Regions from separate parts of the Homo sapiens genome. Here region 2 is linked to region 1. The links come from fine-mapping of genetic effects on gene expression. Tissue or cell type: monocytes. Region 1 holds a variant in brackets; the other region holds the start of a gene. All regions are shown on one strand. Distances are from middle to middle.

Region 1 (8,103 bases):
TGAGTCGTGGATGACAAGCCGAGGAGAGGGAAACTTGGGTGAGCATTTGTCGTCGGGGTGCTGCCACCAGCCCCCAAGCAGGTGTGAGTTGCTTTGGAGGGCCTGCCACTGCTTCTTGGCTCCCAGAAAGGGGGCATCTCCAGCTGTGCTGAGGCTTCCGGGTTGTGGTTGAGGCTTGGGTTGTGGTTCAGCTGGGGCACCTGGACTACATTCTGTGCCGGGGGCCTGGCCTTGCCTCCCCAGAATTAATCATCACAGCTGGTGGGGAGAATGTGCCCCCTGTGCCCATCGAGGAGGCCGTGAAGATGGAGCTGCCCATCATCAGCAACGCCATGCTCATTGGGGACCAGAGGAAGTTCCTGTCCATGCTGCTCACCTTGAAGGTGTGTCTGGGGGGCTCCAGCTCAGAAGGAGCAGCCAGTGAGGGGGTCTGTGGGTCTGGCTGGCAGAAGCCACATTCAGCACAGGGCACATCCAGATCTCATGGCTTCATTCTGGAATGACTCAAGTCCGTGCTGCCTGCACTGTAGGAAAAACTGTGGCACGTGGAAATTCCTTCTGTCCCACATAAGCCACCGTGATGATCCTTTACATGTTACTGGCACTTTCCCGTCTACAAAGTGCTGCTGCCCTCCCTCATTGCTCTCTGCAGGTACTTGGACCCCAGGGTGGTAGACAGGCAGGAGTTACCGTCCCTGCTTTACAGACAATGACGTCACTGACCGAGCTCTTCTAATTCTCAGATCACTGCTCCTTCCACAATAACACGAGGCTCAACACAGTAGCAGCTACTCATTCTAGAACCGTCTCTTTGAAACAGAGCTCACATGATTCACACCCTTGCCGACAGCAGTAAGACCTCCTCCAGGACCAGGGCTTACGTCTTGTTGGGTAAGGCTTGGTCCTCATCTGATCTCTGGCTTTTCAGTGCACTCTGGACCCAGACACCTCTGACCAGACTGATAATCTGACTGAACAAGCTATGGAGTTCTGCCAGAGGGTGGGCAGCAGAGCCACCACAGTGTCCGAGATCATAGAGAAGAAGGATGAGGCCGTGTACCAGGCCATCGAAGAGGGGATCCGGAGGGTCAACATGAACGCGGCGGCCCGGCCCTACCACATCCAGAAGTGGGCCATTCTCGAGAGAGACTTCTCCATTTCGGGTGGAGAGTTGGGTAGGTTTTTCCTTTTCACCATTGCAAGGGCTGTGTGGGAAGGCAGAGGCCATGGCAGTGCCTAGGAGGTGCCTGTTAGGAAGCAGCCACGGCAAAGAGAAGGTCATGGCAGGAATCTGGGTGACACCCATCTACTTCCTGTTAGAGGACATTGATGGCTCCATGCATGGGCTTGTGGTTATGTGGAGTCTGTTGAATGTATAAGATATGTGCTAGAACTTCCTTTTTTTTTTTTTTTTTTTTTTTTTGAGATGGAGTCTCGCTGTGTCACCCAGGCTAGAGAGCAATGGCACGACCTTGGCTCACTGCAACCTGCACCTCGCGGGTTCAAGTGATTCTCCTGCCTCAGCCTCCCGAGTAGCTGGGATTACAGGCATGGGCCACCATGCCCGGCTAATTTTGTATTTTTAGTAGAGACATGGTTTCTCCATGTTGGTCAGGCTGGTCTCGAACTCCCGACCTCAGGTGATCCGCCCGCCTCGGCCTCCCAAAGTGCTGGGATTACAGGCGTGAGCCACTGCGCCCAGCTGATATGTGCTAGAACTTTCTAATCTGAACATGACATTTAACTTGGCCTTGACTATGGGACTGTTTTCTCCGAAAATCACAATGGAACTACCAGGCCAACACCAAGGCCCTGCTAGTGTTCAGCCTGGAGTCACGTGGTTCTAGGGGTGAGAGTACTGTGATCTTCCGGAAAGTCAGCTTGTGTGACAAAGGGATAAGGCTGTTCCGGACCACTGCCCACAGAACCAGGAGAGGGCTCTGGTGCAGCCTCAGCTGAAGTCACTCTTGGCTGTAGCCAAGAGATGTTCATGGGATGTTCATAGAACAGGAGAGGTAGAAATGGTTATGCCAGTGTGATTCCCTCAAATCCATCACGGCTGAACCCAGATGCAATTGTCTACAGCAAAGCTGAGCTGCAATCAGAGACCTTGAGCTTATCTGGCTGTCTGCTGCCAGCATATTGAACGCAAGGTCAGAGAGACAGAAGATGTCTTCACTAAGCAGTTAATATAATGACTTTAACACAGAAAGTTTCCAGTTACACAGTCAAGAGTGAGTTAGGCACTTTAAGCTACCCAGGACCTCAAATCAGAGCTCTTTCAAACTTGCTTTTGGGGGATAAATCAAGGTTAAGAAAAGTAATTAGGGGAAGACCTCTCATAAAGACCATGGCAGAGGCTCCCCATAACCTGGGCTTCCCCTACCCCCATCACAACCATCAAAGCATAATGTCCAACGTTGTATAAACGTTCACAAAAATGCAGAGATGATGTGTACTAGCTATCTAATACATTGCTGTGTAACAAATGACCCCAAAAATGTAGCAGCCTAAAGCAGTAAACATTTATTATCCACATTTCTATGGGTCAAGAATCCAGGAACAGCTTAGCTGAGTGGTTCTGGCTTGGGTCTCACGGGATTACAGTCAATGTGAGCTGGGTGCAGTCACTTGCAGCTGAGGCTCACCTCCGCGCTCACTTACGTGGCTGTCGGCAGGCCTCAGCTCCTTGCTGTCTGCTGGCCAGAAACATCCGTGTGTGGCCAGTGGGCCTCTCATGGGCTGTGTATCCTCACAACATGGCAGCCGGCTTGCCCAGGAAGAATGGTCCAAGAGAAAGCCCAAGACAGAAACCTAGTCTATTTTTTAATTGCTTCAACAATTTATTCATTCAAGAGATGGAACAAATAAATCCATTTCAGAGAAAATGGACTGAGGGTCAAAACTGGGTACAGGTCAAGGAAAAGGCAGATGTAGCTTACACTACTTTCCTATGTGTATAAAAGAAACTGATCTTTTATAACCTATTCTCAGAGGTGACATACCAACCCTTCATCTATACTCCACTGGCCACAACCAGTGGTATAACACAGGAGACTACACACAAGCCATATGAATACCAGGAGCGATCACTGTCTTGGAGGCTGGCTACTGACGGTCCTGATTATCTGGCTTAATTCCTGAGTTATATATAGGACTGAGTGTGAGTCTTTACCACACACATTCTCAGAGTTCTCAGAGCCTGGGCCTCACTCATTTCTTCTCATTTCCCTTTTAGGTCCCACGATGAAACTGAAACGGCTCACAGTTTTGGAGAAGTACAAAGGTATCATTGACTCCTTTTACCAAGAGCAAAAAATGTAATCAGGGCCTATGCCTGCAGTTTCTATAGAATAGAGGGCAGGCGTTCCGAGCCTCTTCCTGAGCCCCAGGTCTCTTCAGTCTGGGCACAGGCATTTCTGCCAAGTCTGTTAGATCTCCAGGTCAGGGCACAGCACTGGCTCTACATTTACCAGGTCTTACGCCAACAATAGCTGACAATTCCAAGAAGCTTCACGTGTGGGTAGTTTTAATTCAGTTTAAGTATTGCTTTTTGTTCAGGTGACAAATGAGATCAGCTCTCCTTCCAGAACGAAAGGGCTGATAATTTTTGGCCTTAGTTCCAGGTAGATTAAAAAGCTGCTAGCTCACATACAGGACAGCCAGCAGTAGGCTGTGGAGCGGGTAGGAGAGAGATGGCTGATACTGCTCACGTGCGCTGCAGGAAAAGCAATCAGTCACAACTCACCTAGCGACCTGACTTACTCTGGAATCTTGGCGGGCATCGCCGACCCTATTATTCCATTACCAGGCACTCCGCCACCCACATGCCAACTGACTTGATGCTTAATAAAACTGCTGCTGCCTGTTTGATTCTATTTAATGTATAATTTGAATATTAAACCTTTTAACAGAACTGTCAACAAGGACCTGATTTTTTTTGTCAATTGAGCAGGTGGGACCAGTGCAGAGAGTAGTGGGCATTTAACTCACAGGACTGTGCACAGCGGGCATGCGAGTGACCATTAGTGCCCTGGAATAAACAAAGGTGCAGGATGGGGTCAAGTGGCGCATTCTCATAAAAGCAGCCAGCTCTACGTTAGCCTGTCGCCACCAGACCACCCCACTTCCATTCTGAATACGGGAAGCAGCCATTCTCAGTAGCAAGCTGAGCCAAAATGACCGAAGGCATCTGAACAGGAAACAGGTAGAGAAAGCAAACATCTCAGTTTTGGAATTCTTTATTACTTTGAACCCAAGAGCCACTGATAACTGGCACAATCCAATGAAACAGAGGAAGCAGCAGCTTAAACAAAGGAAAATACATTTAAGATTATAAGTCTGGGGGGGCGGTTACAAGCTTAAAAAGTGACCCAGACAGGGATATCATTGCTAAAAAAAAAAAAATCCCCTTGTGACCTGGGTACATTTTGCAAAGCCACAGGTTTGCAATGTTACACAAGGGCCAAAGGAGGCCATGAGTTGTCTTTGGTTGTGGGGACAGAGGGTAACTGTTCATGAAAATAGTGAGTGTCTGAAGATTAAGAAAATCATGCTGCAGCAGAGGAGAAGGGAGAGGAAGACAGGAAGG[G/A]AAAGGAGATGCCTGAGGGTCAAAAGCTGAGCCCAAGCCTAAGCCCAAGCTCAAGCTCAAGCCCCAGCATGGCATAATTTTGTGAATTAACTCAGGCTGAGTTGCCTCCAGTCTTTGGAATGTCATCTTATACTGGTACTGCTGAGGCAGAGGGCAGTAATTGGTGCTTTGGGATAGGAGAAGGGGCAGTTGCTGAAATACAAAATTAATAGCATCCCAAGTTCCTCAATTGCAGCCAAAATACATGTGTTCGGGCCTTTCGGCAGTATCGCCCCCAGAACTACCTGCTGTAGTGTGGTCCATTCCCAGACAGCAACATGCAAGAATAAGTTTACAATACACTCAGCCCTTCTGGCTTCAGATCAGGGGCTCAGAGGCTGTGACAACTCATGATGCTGAAAATGTATCCAGTGAAAATGAAGTACTAGCTCTCTGCTTCATTAAAAGCTCTTGGAAAGAATATTAAATCTCAAGACAACAAAATAATTGAACACACAATACATTTGTGTCTTTGTATCCAATATATTACCTTTGTCTTATTAACAAAAATTATATCTCTCATTATATATTTCTTGGATCTGAAGTTTTTATTCACACTCAGTAATTTCTGTAAAGGACAAATCTGTCTCTATTTTCCATATCATTTAGAAATATACCACATTCACTCTTTTTGATGTGAACTTTCCCAGGAAAATTCTCTTGTGCCCATTTAGTTTTAGAAGAGTGTCATTTTGTGCTATTATGTCAATATCCTGTTTTATTTCCATTATGTTTTTCAAAAACCGAAGAAAATAAGGTTTTTCTTAAAAAGTTAGACATTTTCTCTTGTTAATTCTGTATCCTGTTATTTACAGCTGAAGAGAAACTATTTTAACTTAAGTGTAAAATGGTTTAGAATAGCAAATGATACAGTCCACTCAGAGTTTACAAAAAAAACATTTACCAGGTAGACACTTAATAAATAAAACAAGCACTTGGAAAAAGTTCTTTGAAAACAGACCTAGGGACATCCACCTGCATCTTTTGCACAGATTTTGTTAAGAAAAGGCCAGATCTAAAAATGTACTGTCAAGAAACAAGCAAACCAATGCATACATACGTAGGTATTCTAAACAGAGGTTCATGTGGTGTCCATTTAGAGTGACTGATGTAAATGCCAGTTGTAGAAGTGTTAATCTAAATCTTTTACTCGGCGACAGATTTCCTCTGTGAAGTCTGAGCATTTTGCATTGCCTCCCAAATCTTTTGTCAAGCTCTGAGAAAAGGAAAAAGCAAAAATAAAAGATGTATCCGCAAACTAAACTAAACCAAGGAGATTTTAAAGCCCTCAGTGAGATGCCACCTGGGCAAGTTACTCGGCTGCTCTTTCATTTAGTTCCTCATTTCAAAGTGAGGAACCACTCCACCACCATCTACCCAGCCCAGGAGGATCGGGATCCAATCTCATAGTGTATACAACAGCACTCTGCAAAGAATAAGGTGCTCTTGATGCAAAGGGAGGCAGGGAGCTTTACCAAAATTTTCCCTTTGTTCACACAATAGACCCTAACCCAGATTAGTTGGTCATGGATATTTAAATAAAAGCGAATCTAAATAAGAAGTTTCATAAAAATCCTTGGGAAATATGTCTCAGGAATAGACCTGAGACATATTTTGATCTATTTTTGTTTTTATTATTATTTTTTTTTTAGATGGAGTCTCACTCTGTTGCCCAGGCTGGAGTGCAGTGGCACGATCCCAGCTCACCACAACCTCTGCCTCCTGGGTTCAAGCGATTCTCCTGCCTCAGCGTCCTGAATAGCTGGAATTACAAGTGCATGCCACCATACCCAACTAATTTTTGTATCTGATCTATTTTTGGAGGCTGGGACACAAATACGAAAGAAATATTTAAATCATTAACTCTTTTTTTTTTTTTTAAGAGACGGGGTCTCACTATGTGGCCCAGGCTGGTCTTGAACTCAGAGGCTAAGGTGATCCTCCTGCCTCAGCCTATAGCTGCAACTACAGGCATGCACCACCACACCTGCCTAAATCATTAACTCTTAAACCTCCCTCTTTAGGAAAGAAAGCCTCCCATACAACTGATCTGTTCTACCAGCTTATCCTTTCTTTCCTGCATACAGACCCCAATATATTTAATTCTCTTTATCTTTCCATCCTACACAATAAAAGGGCCCACTATGTAATTCAGGCACCTCTCTACTGGGCTGTAGATTATAACTTCCCAAATATAACTTTAAAGAATAAGAAAATCATATGACCTCCAATGTGACTATCAGGCTGTTAAAAACAAGCCTGAATTTCTTGTATTTTGGCCACACGATATAATTTCAAATTACAGAATTTTTTTAAAAGAAGGGACCAACTTTGAAGATATTACGCTAAGTGAAATAAGCCAGACTCAAAGGACAAATACTGTATGATTCCACTTACATGAGGTACCTAGAGTAGTCAAATTCATAGAGACAGGAAGCAGAATGGCAGGTGTCAGAGGATGGGAGGGGGAAGGGAAAGTTACTGTTTAACGGGTGCAGAGTCTCAGTTTGAGAAAATGAAACTGGTCTGGAGATGACTGATGGTGATGGTTACATTACAATGTGAATGTACTTAACATTATTGAACTGTATACCTAAATACGGCTAAAATGGCAAATTTTATGTTATGCATATTTTTCACAATTTTTGTTAAAAAGGACCTCAAATTAGGGATGAGTCTTCAAGTGCATTATTTCCTCTAACTTCGGAATAGCCCGCGACACTTCTTCCACAGGCCACAATTGCTTACCGAGGCGGTGGAGCTTGTTGGGTAAGGCCCAGACTGCGTGTTAATACCAACTTGGGTCATTTAGGAGCTGTAAAACCTTGGACATATTATTTATTCTCTCTGTACCTCAGTTTCCTCATCTATAAAATGGAATTATAGCATCTACTTCAAAGAGTTATAGAAAAACTTTGCTGAGATGATATATAAAGAACTTAAAAGTTGCATAAGTATTCAATTAATATTAGTTATTACTTTTATAAAACTTCTGTATTGCTTTTGTATTATAGATGCACACAGTGTAACATATAAGACTATTGTATTAGAGGTACATCTGCATCTGTATCTGCCACTAGATTCCCAGCTCCTTGAGGCTCAGCATCTTACCCTATTCATCATTTTACTCTTCACACCTTATAAGGTACACTCAACAGACGTTTGTTGTGAAGAGTAAAAAGTTGTCTATAAAAATCAATGAACTTGGCCGGGTGTGGTGGCTCATGCCTGTAATCCCAGCACTTTGGGAGGCTGGGGCGGGAGGATCACTTGAGCTCAGGAGTTCGAGACCAACCTGGCCAGCATGGTGAAACCCCATCTCTACTAAAAATACAAAAATTAGCTGGGTGTGGTGGCACACGCCTGTAATCCCAGCTACTAGGGAGGCTGAGGCAGGAGAACTGCTTGAACCCGGGAGGTGCAGGTTGCAGTGAGCCAAGATTATGACACTGCACCCCAGCCTGGGTGACAGA
Region 2 (8,103 bases), 22 kb after region 1:
GATTATGCCACTGCACTCCAGCCTAGGTAATGGACAAAAAAAAGAAAAAAAGAAAGAAAGAATGAAAAAGACCCGACTCAAACAACTGATTTTAAAATGTAAACCCATCCTACCTGCATATGCTGGGGGCAGCAATGTAAACCCAGGAGTGTAAGGATTTGTGTTTTGTTCACTGTTGTATCTAGTGTCTAGAACAGTCCCTGGCTCATAGAAGGTATTCAATAATTTAAAAAAAAACAAAACAACAATCAAACAAAACTGAGTCCAGCCTCAGTCACATCTCTATCTGAAGAGTTTCCAAGCCAACAAGTAGCCTTAATACTTGCAATGATCTTCTTTAAGGACCAGTCTTTTCCATGTTTGTCATCTCTCTTGCATGATCTTAGAATAAAGCAGTACTGCACCTAAGTCATCACAATGACCCAGAACTTTAAGTAAAATAAAATTTTCCAAAGCACCATTTAAAGGTTACTTCGTGACAAGCAGAGCATAAAAGTGACATGAGGCCGGATGCGGTGGCTCACGCCTGTAATCCCAGCACTTTGGGAGGCTGAGGCAGGCAAATCACCTGAGGTCAGGAGTTCAAGACCAGCCTGACTAACATGGAGAAACCCTGTCTCTACTAAAAATACAAAATTAGCCAGGCGTGGTGGCACATGCCTGTAATCCCAGCTATTCAGGAGGCTGAGGGAGGAGAATCACTTGAACCCAGGAGGCAGAGGTTGCGGTGAGCCAAGATCGCGCCATTGCACTCTAGCCTGGGTGACAAGAGCAAAACTCCATCTCAAAAAAAAAAAAAAAAAAAAGGCCGGGCGCAGTGCCTCACGCTTGTAATCCCAGCACTTTGGGAGGCTGAGGCCGGTGGATCACCTGAGGTCAGGGTTCAAGACCAGCCTGGCCAACATGGTGAAACCCTGTCTCTAATAAAAATACAAAAATCAGCTGGGTGTGATGGTGGGTGCCTGTAATCCCAGCTACTTGGGAGGCTCAGGCAGGAGAATCGCTTGAACCCAGGAGGTGGAGGTTGCAGTGAGCCAAGATCTCACCATTCCACTCCAGCCTGGGCAACAGGAGCAAAACTCTGTCTCAAAAAAAAAAAAAAAAAAAAAAAAAATTGACATGAGTCCTTTCTCCTCTCCCAGCCCAAAAAAGAGGGAAAAGACATTCACACAAAACTAGCTTATGTCTCTGTGACAGAAGACCTGACCAATCAGCCTAGACAACAGAGTGAGACCCTACCTCTACAAAAAAAATTTTAAATGTTAGCCAGGTATGGTGGCACACACCAGTAGTCCCAGCTTCATGGAAGGCTGAGATGGCAGGACTTCTACTTTATAGAATACTCATATGCATATATATATATATATCTCACATCATTTTATTTATATAAAACCTGTAGAGATAGGCATTATTGGCACTTTTCAGATGAGGAAACTGAGGCCAGGTTCATGAAGCCTGGACCAAAACCCTGAACTTTGGACTTCAGGTCGTGGGCCATCTTAATCCACAACTCATTTCCTTTTTAACTTAAAAACATGTAAATAGTGTTGTACATGGGTTCTGAGATGGGTTTTAAAAAAAAAATCTTTTTTTTTTTTGAGACAGAGTCTTGCTGTTACCCAGGTAGGAGCATGATCTCCTCTCACCGCAGCCTCCACCTCCTGGGTTCAAGTGACTCTCCTGCCTCAGCCTCCCGAGTAGCTGGGATTACAGGCGTGCGCCACCACGCCCAGCAAATTTTTGTATTTTTAGTAGAGATGGGGTTTCGCCATGTTGGCCAGGCTGGTCTTGAACTCCCGACCTCAAGTGATCCGCCCACTTTGGCCTCCCAAAGTGCTAGAATTACAGGCATGAGCCACCATGCCTGGCCACAACCTGAAATGGAAACTCAACAGAGGAACTGTCCTGATTGAAACCGGCATCCAGCTCAGCACCTCCACCATCCTGGGGTCAGCCTCTGAGCCACCTTCTGCTCCAATCCCTAAAGTGAGAAGCTGGCCCAGAAGTCAAATGACTCTGCCAAAGGTCACACAGGGAGTGCATGTCAGAGAACCTCATCTTCTGACTCCACAACCCAACACTTTCTGAATACCTACTATGAGGGTTTTTTCATGCAGATCACACTAAAGGCAAAACAGATTTACCAGCACAATCATTATCAAGTGTTGCTTTAGTGCCTCACTGTGAAGGCAAATGTACCTACCAAAGATGAATTGGGTGTTAAATGTAAGTTCAGAGATTAAAGGACTGAGTTCAGTTTTCACAGTGACACAGAAGTTGCTTTACTTTTAGGAGCAAATGTGACATAAGAGTTATCATCACAAGCAAATCTGGGTCTGAAGAGGGTGACAAAGTAGAATCTAGTTATTGAACAAAAAAACCAGTTAATGATGCCCATGAAAACCACTGTCTGTTGGAGACAGATAAACATATTGATAAGAAAGCTTCAGATTTTTGTTTTCCTTCTGTACATACCAAGTGCTTTCACATACATTATTTTATTTAATACTCAAACAATTCTGTGATGTAAGTATAGATATTCACAGATGGGCATATTAAGGCTTAGAGATGTTTAGTAATTTGCTTAGGGTCACACAGCCAATCAGTGGCATTGCTAGGATTTAAATCTGAGACTCCTAAATTCCAGTACAGAGATCTTTTCCTTAAATAACAGTGCATCTCTGGACCTCTCTTTAAACCGAAAAAATGGGAGAAAAGTAGTATCAAACTTACAGAAAAACGTTAAATTGTTTATAGATTTCTAGGGGACCACCCTTTCATAGCAACAGGAGACTTGAGGCCTGATGGCCTGTACCATCATTTGCTATGTGACCTTGGGAAATGGGAACCAAGACACCTAGGTTCCTCTCCCTGCTCTGACACCGACCTCCTGTGTGACCTTGAGCAAATTCTTCTTCAGGCACAGGTTAGTTCCACTGAGAAGCTACGGAACTGCATAGATGATCTGAAACCCTTTCCAGCTCTGGCATCTGAGCTGTCAAGGAGAGCTAAAGCGCTCCAGATTGCAGGATTCCCACCAATGAAAGGTAAAAGGAAGGCTCTGCTGGTCTCTCTCTCCGAAGGTTCAGACGGTAATTCCGAGGTGTAAGATGCCCTATCCTATGAAGGGGAAATAGCTACAAGAGCACTAGAGGTCTGACTGGGAAGAGCGCCAAAGGGAAAACAATCTGATAGGGAAAAGGGCCCCCGGATTCTCTCACCTGGGAAAACCTCCCAAGCTCAACGCCAGTGCCCGTGGCACCTGCGGTTCCCCGGCCAAGGGCCGCGCAGACAGCGGATGAGAGGTGTGGGCAGTGCTGAGGGGATCAGTCCCGCAGCAGGGCCGCAGCCGGGGAAGCGGCCCGGATGGCGGAGCCGGGACAGAGGCTCCCGTGACCTTCCCGGGCTCGGCGCGAAGCCTGGGCTCTGGCCTGGGCGGATGCGGGTGACGGCAGCCGGGTCTCGGCAGGAGCAGGGCCGGCGCCCCCCCGCCTTGACCTTGACGCCGTCCCCGCCTCTGCGCTGCTGACCCGGCCCGGGGCGGCCCATACACTGCGAGCCGGCCACGGAGCGCGGGGCACGGGCGACCAGGACCGGCTCCCAAGCTGTCCCCGCGGGCAGCCACCGCCTCCCTGTCTGGCCCACGCGCCCGCCCACACCCGGCACGCGACCGGCTCTCCTGCCAGCCCTCGCGGCCTGCCTGCCTGCCACACGCCGGCCTGCCAGCGCTCACCTTAGAGATCCACGCGGGCCCAGCCATCGCTTCCCCTCCTGGCTCCGCAGCAACAGCCGCAGCGGCAGTGCGCAAGCGCCCACCCCACGCTCGGAGCCCGCCCCTGCACGGCCACGCCCCCTGAACGCCCCGCCCCCTAGACCGCCTCAGGATTGCTTCGCGCTCGCTCGCTGCCCCGCCCCTGGACATTCCGCTGGCGAATCGCCGGGCTCGTCTCTCTGTGACTGGCCTGGCTGAGCGCCAGGCGAACCCGGAAACTGAGGGGCCGGCATCTCCGGGAAAGCTTCTTCCTCCCCTCCCTGGTTCATTGACTCGCTGTTAAGGTAAGACGTTTGTTCCACACCTACTAGGTGCTGATTAATGTTCTAGGATCTTGGGGATATAGCGCTCCTCATAGAATTTACAATCCCGTGGAGAAAGACACATAATTTTCTTATTCCACAAATTTTGATTTTTTTTTTTTTTTTGAGACCGGGTCTCACTCTGTCGCCCAGGCTGGAGTGCAGTAGCGCGAACAGGTTCACTACAAAGCCTCGACCTCCTGGGATCAAGTAATTACTAAGCCCAGCCCAACTTTGTTTTTTCTTTTCTTTTTCTTTTTTTTTTTTTTTTTTTTTCTCCGTAGAGATGGGGCCTCGCTATGTTGCTCAGGCTGGTCTGGAACTCCAGAGTTCAAGCGATCTGCTTGCCCCAGGCTCACAAAGTGAGCCACTGCGACTGGCCGAATTTTATTTTTTACCAGCTTTATTGAGGTATAATGTATATATAGTAACATTTACTCACTGTAAGTGTACAGTTTGATGATTTTTAGTAAATGTAAACAGTTGCACAACCATCACCACAATCCAGTTTTTGAGCATATGAAAATGTTCCTTGTGTCCGTTTATAGTCAATCCCGCTCCTGTCCTCAATCCCAGGCAACTACTAATCTGTCTATTTAGCTCAACAAATATTTCTGAGGGTCAACTAGACACCAGGCACTGTTTTAAGTGCTGGGGCTTAGTGTCCAGTAGGAAAGACAGGCTTCAATCAAGTGTCACACACATGTCATTAAAACTGTTGCGCCAAGAAGCAAAAGAGCAAGGAGCTATGGCAAGGCAAAATCAGGCAACCTGATTCAAACCTAACCTGGAGGTCAGGGAATGCTTCTCTGAAGAAATAACATCCATACTCACCTTTCCCCTTGTCCTCTCCCTGTCCATCACAAACTCCTGAGTTCCTGCTGATGGCCAGGCCTCTAGCTGGGTGCCAGGGGAGGTCAGGTGTTTAAACCAGGTCTCTGCTACCCTACCCTGGGAAGAGTTCTATCCAGAGAGGAGCTGCCTACCCACCCAGAGAGGTGATGAGTGCAGTAGAGAAGTGATCCCAAGAGCTTTTATGACCTAAATAATAAACTGCAGCTAAGTCTGTGGCCTTGTCAGGAAGGAGGGCTTTTATCAACCCCTTTCCATTGGGCCCCTTCCCCTCATCAGGCCCTGGCAGTCCCATCCTGAAGTGTTCTCCCACAGTTCCTCCATCCCCAATGTCACCCCTGCCCTCCTTCGGGCCAGACCACCTCAGGCCCAGGCTCTTACAACAGCCTCTTCACCTGCCAACCTGCCCTCCCCTTCAGGCACAGCTCTGACCAGGGCTCGCCCCGGCTCTGAAACCTCCTGGCTCTCCCTTGCACTCTCCTCTCACACCACTGTCTTTTTTCAGCCTGATTTCCCACCACTCCTTCCAGCCCCAAAGACCTGGAGCGCCTGCCAACTAGGACTGCTGGCCAGCCCCCAAATGCTTCCCATATTTTACCTCTCCGTGCCTATGGTCGTGCCATTCCCTCAGCCTCAATGCCCTCTTGCCCCACTTCTACTGGCTGAAATTCTAGCTCCTTGTCAAGACTCAGCTTACATGTTGGGAAGTAGTAAAAGTTGTAAAAGCCCCCAAGACCCACGAATGTGTCCCCCTCTCCTTACTCAGAGCCCTCTAGCACTTGGCTCCCACCTCTCCTGGGAAACATCACATTCTCTTCTGCTGTGTGCCATTGAGAAGATAAGCTTTGGGCCAGGCGTGGTGACTCACGCCTGTAATCCCAACACTTTGGGTGGCCGACGCAGGTGGATCACTTGAAGTCAGGAGTTGGAGACCAGCCTGGCCAACATGGCAAAACCCTGTCTCTACTAAAAATACAAAAATTAGTTGGGCGTGTTGGCACATGCCTATAATCCCAGTGACTCAGGAGACTGAGGCATCAGAATCGCTTGAACCCACGAGGCAGAGGTTGCAGTGAGCCGAGATCATGCCACTGCACTCCAGTCTGGGTGACAGAGCGAGACTCTGTCTCAAAAGAGATAGAGAGAAGATATGCCTTAAGTCCAGAGATAATCTTGATGATCTCTTATGACGTTGTTTCTGGAACAGAGACTGGTACACAAGGAATACTTGCTGCTCAGTGATTGTGAAATAAACATTGACTGACTTTGTCCAGTCTTCATTTAATCTTCACAACAACCCTATGAGAAAACTGAAGTACAGCTAGTAAGTGATGATGCTGGCATTCACACTAGGAAGCTTCCTAAGTACTAAGGCAGTTCTCCTAACTGCTGAACTTTCGCTGAGGGCCAGTCCAATCCTACAAAGGCTTCCCAAGCCATTCTCTAGCAAGTGCACTGTGAGAACAAAAAATGAACAAGACCCACTCCTACCCTCCAGATCTAGTGAGGGAGAAACTCAGAAGTCTCAGATGGAAGTTGGGGGGTGATCAAGGAAGATTGCACAATGGAGATGGCATTTGAATCAGTCCTTGAAGAGGTAAAATGTCAGCAGCTGGAGGGACATGCAGGAAACAGAAATGACCTCACCTTGAGCTGAGATCTGTTCCCTGAGTCAGCCCTTGGCTCCAGAAGCCCCAGTCACCATTCCTCGAACATGTTCTAGAGTTCCTCCAAGATGCAGGTCACTCTCCTCTGGAAAAGCCCTTTTTCCTTGTCCCTTGCACTGTGTAGTGCCCAGAGATACCATCAGCAAAGTATGTTTGGACAAGACGGTGGGAAAACTTTGCCACTCAGGAGAAGAATCTAGAAAGTGCACCCTTATCTGTAATAACAAGCACTATCCAATCCAGGTGTGCTTCACTCTAAGGAAAAAAAAAAAGATTTTAAAATCAAGAGGCCAGGTGCGGTGGCTCACTCCTGTAATCGCAGCACTTTGGGAGGCAGAGGTGGGTGGATCGCCTGAGGTCAGGAGTTTGAGACCAGCCTGGCCAATATGGTGAAACCCCATCTCTCCTAAAAGTAACAAAAATTAGCCAGGGGTGGTGGTGTGCATCTGTAGTCCCAGCTACTCAGGACGCTGAGGCAGGAGAATCACTTGAACCTGGGAGGCGGAGATTGCAGTGATCCAAGATCGCACCACTGCACTCCAACCTGGGTGACAGAGCGAGACTCTGTGTCAAATAAATAAATAATAAAATCAAGATAGCAATTTTTAAGTGAATAAATCAGCAAAACAGAATATACATTATTCACATACCAAATGTTTATTTTTTGTTACAAAAGAAATTCATTTCAACAGTTTTCCTACTTTATTTAAAATATTATTTTCATTAAAGATATGATTGGCAAAGGGTTCATCCCTATCTCTAAGTTAGGAAAAGATCCAACAAATTGGTAAAGAAGGTATTAGGACTTTAGTAAATAAATGGGAAAAGGGGACTGGGCGCGGTGGCTCACGCCTGTAATCCCAGCACTTTGGGAGGCAGAGGTGGGTGGATCACGAGGTCCGGAGTTCAAGACCAGCCTGGCCAAGATGGTGAAAGCCTGTCTCTACTAAAAATACAAAAAATTAGCTGGGCGTGGTGGCGGGTACCTGTAATCCCAGCTACAAAGGAGGCTGAGGCAGAGAACTGCTTGAACCTGGGAGGCCGAGGTTGCAGTGAGCCGAGATCGTGCCACTGCACTCCAGCCTGGGCGACAGAGTAAGACTCTGTCTCAAACAAAACAAAACAAAAAACATAGGCCGGGCATGGTGGCTCATTCCTGTAATCCCAGCACTTTTGGAGGCCGAGGCGGGCAGATCACAAGGTCAGGAGGTCAAGACCAGCCTGGTTAACATAGTAAAACCCCCTCTCTACTAAAAATACAAAACTTAGGGAGGCATGGTGGTGCACACCTGTAGTCCCAGCTACTGGGGAGGCTGAGGCAGGAGAATCACTTGAACCTGGGAGGTGGAAGTTGCAGTGAGGCGAGATCACACCACTGCACTCCAGCCTGGGTGACTGAGTAAGACTCCGTCTCGGGAAAAAAAAAAACAAAACAAAACGGGAAAAGGACCTGAATAATCAATTCACAGCCAAATAAACTTTTAAATAAATGTTCAATCTTAACAATAGT

Which allele goes with the higher level. Alleles are on the strand shown, and positions count from the first base shown. SD is a standard deviation of normalised expression in the study named.
With allele G in place of A in region 1, the expression in monocytes of the gene that starts at base 3,802 in region 2 is lower (moderate effect, 0.49 SD a copy in Fairfax 2014).

The links. PIP is the estimated chance that this variant, and not a neighbour inherited with it, causes the effect.
Region 2: IDH3A starts here. The variant in region 1 is fine-mapped to the expression of IDH3A in monocytes (Fairfax 2014, PIP 0.95).

The regions. Positions count from the first base shown.
Region 1 is chr15:78,166,665-78,174,767 of GRCh38, reverse strand. IDH3A (isocitrate dehydrogenase (NAD(+)) 3 catalytic subunit alpha) reads right to left here. Exons shown (of 11, transcript NM_005530.3): 11 at 2,823-5,846. The coding sequence ends at 5,763. ACSBG1 (acyl-CoA synthetase bubblegum family member 1) reads left to right here. Exons shown (of 14, transcript NM_015162.5): 12 at 244-383; 13 at 929-1,175; 14 at 3,239-7,300. The coding sequence ends at 3,324. Among named protein-coding and RNA genes, the nearest start is that of IDH3A, 21 kb to the right of the region's middle. RefSeq lists an enhancer at 6,937-7,236. The variant G/A (reference allele first, on the strand shown) is at 4,592.
Region 2 is chr15:78,145,061-78,153,163 of GRCh38, reverse strand. IDH3A (isocitrate dehydrogenase (NAD(+)) 3 catalytic subunit alpha) reads right to left here and starts at 3,802. Exons shown (of 11, transcript NM_005530.3): 1 at 3,734-3,802. The coding sequence starts at 3,760. LOC124903534 (a long non-coding RNA gene) reads left to right here and starts at 3,945. Exons shown (of 2, transcript XR_007064725.1): 1 at 3,945-4,056; 2 at 5,432-8,103. RefSeq lists a silencer at 3,263-3,842.